Linked DNA regions of Homo sapiens. The protein of the gene in region 1 interacts with the protein of each later gene in a pairwise test. Each region holds a gene or a part of one and is shown on either strand. Other genes may lie near its edges.

The links. Proteins that work in one complex are often made in the same cells at the same time.
Region 2: the proteins of C21orf58 (region 1) and SPTA1 interact in a two-hybrid assay, tested with the Homo sapiens proteins (one large-scale study listed by BioGRID).

The regions. Positions count from the first base shown.
Region 1 is NC_000021.9:46,300,587-46,303,862, forward strand, and holds the end of C21orf58 (uncharacterized protein C21orf58), read right to left. Parts: intron 1,991-3,276; coding exon 1,899-1,990; intron 1,569-1,898; coding exon 1,413-1,568; 3' UTR 544-1,412; downstream 1-543.
Region 2 is NC_000001.11:158,617,161-158,620,815, forward strand, and holds part of SPTA1 (spectrin alpha chain, erythrocytic 1), read right to left. Parts: intron 3,307-3,655; coding exon 3,010-3,306; intron 2,175-3,009; coding exon 2,062-2,174; intron 897-2,061; coding exon 879-896; intron 429-878; coding exon 377-428; intron 1-376.

The sequences.
Region 1 (3,276 bases):
AGTGAGTGTTACTGCCAGTAGCTGCGCTGGGCCCTTCGGTGTTCACACCTGCCCGTCCATGTCAGCACCAGGTGGCTGTCCCTGGGGAGCTCTGCAGCTCAGTGGCAACTCTCTGGTCATCCTGTCTCCTACCTGCAAACTTTCAAAGATGGAAGCACTGGGACAGGGTTCCTCCTTGTGCGGAACTTCAGGAATGAAAGAATCTGTCCTAATAGGGGGTGAATGAAAGTTTATGTATACTACTTAAAAATATGTAAACAACATTAAAAGAGCAAAGAAACATAATTGCACCCAAAAAAAAAAGTAACAAAAAGTAAAGAAAAGAAATAGTCAAGGTAGCCTGTCCACATGGTAAGAAACCCCACAGCACAGAAGGAAACTGAACTGAGGGGAGTGAGCCGCCCTTCCACTGCCCAGCACTCACCTTTGCTTTACAGGAACAAGAGCTGTGCAAACCAGCATGTAGAGATTTCTGCATTTATAGCATTAGCACTCTCCCTTTTTTTTTTTTATTAACTCAAAAGGGATCACGTCATACACAGCTTGCTTCTTTCACTTTTTTATTTTATTTTTGAGACAGGGGCCTGCTCTGTGGTCCAGGCTATAGTGCAGTGGTTCCATCAGAGCTCACTGCAGCTTCTAACTCCTGGGCTCAAGCAATCCTCCCACCTCAGCCCCCAGAGCTGCTGAGATAACAGGCGCATATCACCACACCTGGCTAGTTTTTTAAATTTATTTTTTGTAGAGACGGGGTCTTGCTATGTGACCCAGGCTGGTCTCGAATTCCTGAGCTCAAGTGATCCTCCTGCCTCAGCCTCTTAAAGTGCTGGGATTACAGGCATGAGCCATGCACCCCTACTTCTTTAGTGGGAGTCTGTGCCACAGCTGTGGACACAGGTGTCCCTAGTTATTAAATTAGACTTTGTGGTATTTTCCCCATCAGGATGTTCACACTTCCATGTGGCTAAAGCTATTGATCTTTTCTGTTCTGGCTCCTGAGCTGAGATTTTCTTAAACTCTTTCTGGATGAAATCTTTATTTCATCAGGCTGGTGGCGTCCACGGCCTCAACTTTACCTCCGTGATGGAAGAGGGGGATCTGAGGCTCCCAGGTGGGCCGGCGCCGCCCTACAGGAAAGGAGGGGTCCCTGGGAGGGGCTGTTGCCCTGGTGGGGTTCACAGGCCCCTCACTGCAGGGGACCCGGAGCAAGGGATGCCCCCTGGAATGGCCCCGTGACCAGAAAGCGAGCCTGCCCAGCTTCCCCAGGAGGAGCCTGCAGTCCACACTCGCGTAGCCACTCCGGGTGGTGGCAGGGTCTCTCCCTGCTCCCTTCCATAGTCCCGCCACAGCCCACAGCCCTGAGGAAGCCTGGGGGTGGAGGGTGCCCCGGCCAGGGTCTCTGTGACTCACACTCAGGGTGGGCCAGGCGTCCACAGGCTGGGGGCGGGCTGGAGGACAGTGGCAGCCCCAGGTGGCCACACAGCATGGTGGTGGTGGTGGTGGTGGTGCACGGCAGGCAGCCTTGGCCTGGCAGCTCGTGGGACCCTCGGGGGCACATGTGGCGGGTCCTGCCACAGACGCACCTGCTGCTTAGGACGCAGCCCAGGCTGCTCCCCACCTCCACTCCCGCCCTGTTCCTAACTGGGGCTGGATCCCATGTGATAGGCAGGATGGCAGGGTCTAAGCATCCTCCCAGAGGAGGCTCCTCCCCCGCCCCAAATTGTGCAACCCATTCCTCATCTGGGCTGGGACTCGATGGGGATGGGGGCTTCACAGCCAGACTGTAGACCTGAGCCAGGAATGCCCTTTCAGAGCTACACAGATGCAGAAATTTCCAGAAGAAAAACCACCCAGGCCCTGTTTCCTTGGCCTAGGGTTCTGCTGGGGGCTAAGCCTACCTGCAGGGCTGGGGGCAGGGCCTTGAGCATCCAGTTCTGCAGGACCAACTGGTGCACCTGTGCGTTCTGCAGCAGCAGCAGCTCCACCATGTCTGCAGGGAAGAAGCAGGGGGACCCTGAATAAAGTTTCCGTTTTTCCTATTTGTTAAAGTGATAGAGCATTATAGGACCAGAGAACAGGTGTGTCTGTACACTGTGCAGGTCCCCGGGGCAGGCTCTGAGTCCGTCTGCACACGGTGCGGGTCCCCGGGGCGCGCCCTGAGCCCGTCTGCACACGGTGCGGGTCCCCGGGGCGCGCCCTGAGCCCGTCTGCACACGGTGCGGGTCCCCGGGGCGCGCCCTGAGCCCGTCTGCACACGGTGCGGGTCCCCGGGGCGCGCCCTGAGCCCGTCTGCACACGGTGCGGGTCCCCGGGGCGCGCCCTGAGCCCGTCTGCACACGGTGCGGGTCCCCGGGGCGCGCCCTGAGCCCGTCTGTACACGGTGCGGGTCCCCGGGGCGCGCCCTGAGTCTCTACTAAAAATACAAAAATTAGCCAGGCGTGGTGGTTCAAGCCTGTAATCCCAGCTCCTTGGGAGGCTGAGGCATGAGAATCGCTTGAACTCAAGAGGCAGAGCTTGCGGTGAGCCAAGATCGTGCCACTGTACTCCAGCCTGGGCAACCAGGGCGAAACTCCGTCTCAAGAAAAAAAAAAAATTAAAACATCTAAGCCAGTTGTAGTGGTGCATGCCTGTAGTCCCAGCTACTCAGGAGGCTGAGGCAGGAGGATCACTTGAGCCCAGGAGTTCGAGGCTGTAGTGAGCCATGATCATGCCCCTGCACTCTAGCCTGGGTAACAGAGCAAGATACTATCTCCCCAGAAAATAAATAATAAAATATCTGTTCATCTACAGACACCATGAAGAGAGTGAAAAGGCAACCACAAGAAGGATGGAACACTCAAAATGCACATATCAAAAAAGGGCTCATTACAGAAATTATAAAGAATCCCTAGAAACCAATAAGGGAGGCAGGCAACCTGAAAGAAAAATGGGCAAATTACTTAAATGGACACTTTACAAAAAAGGATATTCAAGTAGCCAATAAGGCCAGGCACGGTGGCTCATGCCTGTGATGCTCGCACTTTGGGAGACCGAGACAGGAGAAGTCCTTGAGACCAGGAGCTGACACCAGTCATAGCAAGACCTCATCTCTACACACACACACACACACACACACACACAAAATATATATATATATATATATATATATATATATATATATTTTTTTTTTTTTTTTTTTTTTTGGAGACAGAGTCTTGCTCTGTCGCCGAGGCTGGAGTGCAGTGGTGCGATCTCGACTCACTGCAAGCTCCGCCTCCTGGGTTCACGCCATTCTCC
Region 2 (3,655 bases), on another chromosome or scaffold:
GTTGGGCACTTTTACATTTGCTCCTTTACTTCATCATCATGTTCTAAATCCTTTGTAGCCACAAAACGTGAAACCACCCACCCACTGTTCCCAAAGCCTCTCCCACTCTGGGCAGATCAGAGTCTCCCATGAAATTCTTTCTTCAGGGCAAACAGTGACTCTACAATGGGTACTAACTCTATTGTGTAGATGCAGAAATTGAAATTCAGAGATTTAAGTAGACTGAGGTTTATATTCATGATGTGATGGCCTATGGTTAAAATGGACTTCAGGTGATACATACCTAAAAGTATCACCTGGGCTTCCCTTAGGTGATTATTTTTACACTCCTTATAATTTTGGCAATATCTTCAGTTAATGAAAAAACAATACTTACTTTATTTGCTTCCAGCTGAGATTCCAGAGTTCCTGTTTCTTTGAGCAATGATCTAGTTAAGAACCGAAGGAAATCATTATGCATCACATCACAGGTCAATATTTCATACATGCATACCAACTCGAAGCTCCTCTGTTTCAACTTCTCCAAGGTTATGTGGCTTACATGAAGCAAAATTTCACAGAGCCAAATTTTCACAACCTTGCCAGACTGATGAGAAGGGAAGACTTTCCCTAGTTCTTCTCTGACTAGGAGAAGGCTTTCACATACCCCTCTTAATTATTCTTCTTAAATACACACTTAAGCAATGTAGGCAAGATTCCGTCTAGTGAAGTATAAGGGCAGAATGAAATATAATGAGCTTTTCCTTCTCACTCCACATTTTTATTTACATACTACCAGATTACAATGGAATGAAAATGTCTCAGCACTAACTCTTTCTTAACGAATTCTTCCATAATAATATAATAAAGCAAACATGATGATAACATAAAATACTGACCCATCCAGAAAGTAAGCCCTGGACATGGAGGTCCGGAACAGGAATCACATGAGAGAAAAGGGAGATGATATGTTAAAATGGATTACTTTAAAGATCTCATTTCCTCAGATTTATGAAACATTTTAAATCTTTTGTTGCCACAAAACATGAATCTGTCCACCCACTGGTTCCCAAGGCCTCTCCCACTCTGAGAAGATCAGAGTCTCCCATAAAGCTCCTTGCTTCAGGACAAGGAGCACCAATGTCAAGGAATATGCTTGGTGTTGGACACACATTGCCAGGATGTGATGAAGTCACCAAGAAAAGAGGAAGAGAAGGGTGTTCTGTGTCTTCTCTGCCTTCTGTCAGATGGTTTAGACATGGTATAGGATTTCTTTTTGTTCATTTATCGTTGTCAGTGAGTATGTAGAAAAGTATATATCATGAATTGTCTAAACCACCACATTAACCCTCAAAACACCACAGTTTTGACACACCTACTGGATACAACTTTGACCATGTATTCTAATATATTACATCTTCTAAGTCTCCTTTTTCTAGGTCATTTACCCCAGAAGATGTGACATATGTTATCTTCAGGTACAGAACAGTTTGCTATTAATAAGCACAATTAACATAAATTATCTCACTTGATTCTCATTAGAACTTTAGTAGGTACACAACAGAATAGCTTCATATGAGGTATTCATAGAAGATTCTGCTTCTGGTTATGCCAGTAAATATATATGTGACCTTGAGCAAGTAAATTTATCTACTTGAACTTTCCACACTTGGAAACAGAGCTAATAAGAGCTGCTCTGTATGCTTTTCAAGGTTGCTCCGACAGTTAAGTGAGGTAATGGATATGGAAGTACTCTGTAAAGTGCAATATGGCATGTGAACATAAGAAATTGTTATTATTTTGGACTGAAATTACAGGCAACAGAAAGAAAGGTGAGAGTATCAAGGAGAGAATACAGAAGTGTACATAATAAGCAGAAGGATGAAATTGTCATTTCTTGGTTTTCCAAGAATTGATTCAGAAAACAGTCAACTCCAAATATAAAGCATAGGCAAGATATGGGGATTTTAGGGCAGAATACATGCTCTCAGAGTCTCTCCTCTTCCCTTCAAACATGTATTTCATCCCTATGGCAAATGGTGGTGGCACAGGGGTCATGGTTTGGGATGTAGCATAGCACACCTGGTTTCCAGGATCCATTGAAGGAAGGTACTGGCATTCTGTTCAAACTCCTGACACATCTCAAAGTTCTTGACCTGTCTTGCCTCTTCCTTTTGCAGCTCCTGCTCCCGTTCCTAAAACCCCAAATCACAGACAACGTGACTGACATCGAAGGCCTTTCTTTGCCATAAGAGAATTGGTTTGTAGGCTTAACTGCATATCTTTCCTCTCTCAAGTCTAACCTATCTTCCACAGGTATGTGCCTGTGTGCTCATATTTCATGCAGTCAACCTCTCTCACCTCTAAAATGTAAAGATAGCCTGTGTATTTCCCAAGAGTACTTGCAGGGTCCTCTAAGACCAAGTCCCGTAACAAGTAAGCTAGTAATAAAAGCAAACCTCTCCTGTTTATAATTTCTTTTGGGGAAATTTAATTTAAATGAACACAAAAGCAGCCTTAAAGGGCCTGCTACCCTTAGAAACAATAGTTACTATCTAAAAATGGTGATATTGTGGTTAGTTTTCTATTACACTTTTTATGTTTCATAGTTTCAATAATGAACATTATTAACACAGACAAAAGCTAAAAATACATACGTAGCAAGGCACTTTTGGAGGTGTATATAAAAACGAAAATGTCTTGAATGAGGGGGATATGTAGACAATGAATACATATAAAGCCTCATGAACTTTTCATAGCTCATCATTAGAACCATGTCTTGGGGCTTCTGTTTGCTTCTCAGAATCATTGTTCAATACTCAAAAACAGGAAACTGCCCAAATTATGGGGCATAGGGTATACCTATGATAAACATATTTTCCAGTTTTTCTTAGACAGTCATGTTTCATGACTTCTGTCCCAGTATAGTTATTAATAGTGTTCCTTCTATGTCAAAAGTCTATTTACTTGGATAATAAAGTGGTTATGTTCACTGTAGTGAAAGGAAGTTTCTGCCGTGTTCCAGGTTACCTCAATGATGTCAGATAGGTGCTTCCAGGTCCTTTCCAGCACCTCCACTGTTAACCAGGTATAAGGGCTGGAAGGCACACCTAAGGCCTTAATCTGCTGGTCTAGCTCCAGCAAACATTTAAAGTCTGCTTGAGCCCTAGCCAGGGAGGCCAAGAAGTCCTCATGGTCTTTCTGCAGCTGCCGAATTTCATTCAGGGAGACACAGTGCACAGGCTCTGACAAGTTTTCTTCCATCTTTTCACACCAGTTGTTCAAAGCTGAAGCCTTATGTGCAAATTCCACGAACAGGTCCTCAGCCTGCAGAGAGAAAAAAAAGACACTACCATCTTTCCTGATAAAGCCTCTCAGCAGAAGAGAAGATTGAGGATAAAAATAATGCCTGTCTTTAAATATCTGCAGGGCCACCAATCTAAAAGGGCAGAACTAAAACCAATAGGGACTGTGTACTTTGATGGTTGAACATGTGAGTTAGCGGTACGAGCCCTGGTTCTGGCATTTTCTCATTGTGTGAAATTGTTTAAGTCTTTCATCATTTACAAATGAGGGAGGTCGAATTATTTCTAAAATTATTTCAGTTTTAAAATTCCAAAAGTAGCAAAGGTAGTTTTCAATTATATGATTTCTTGTTCTAAAGTCTATCCTCCAG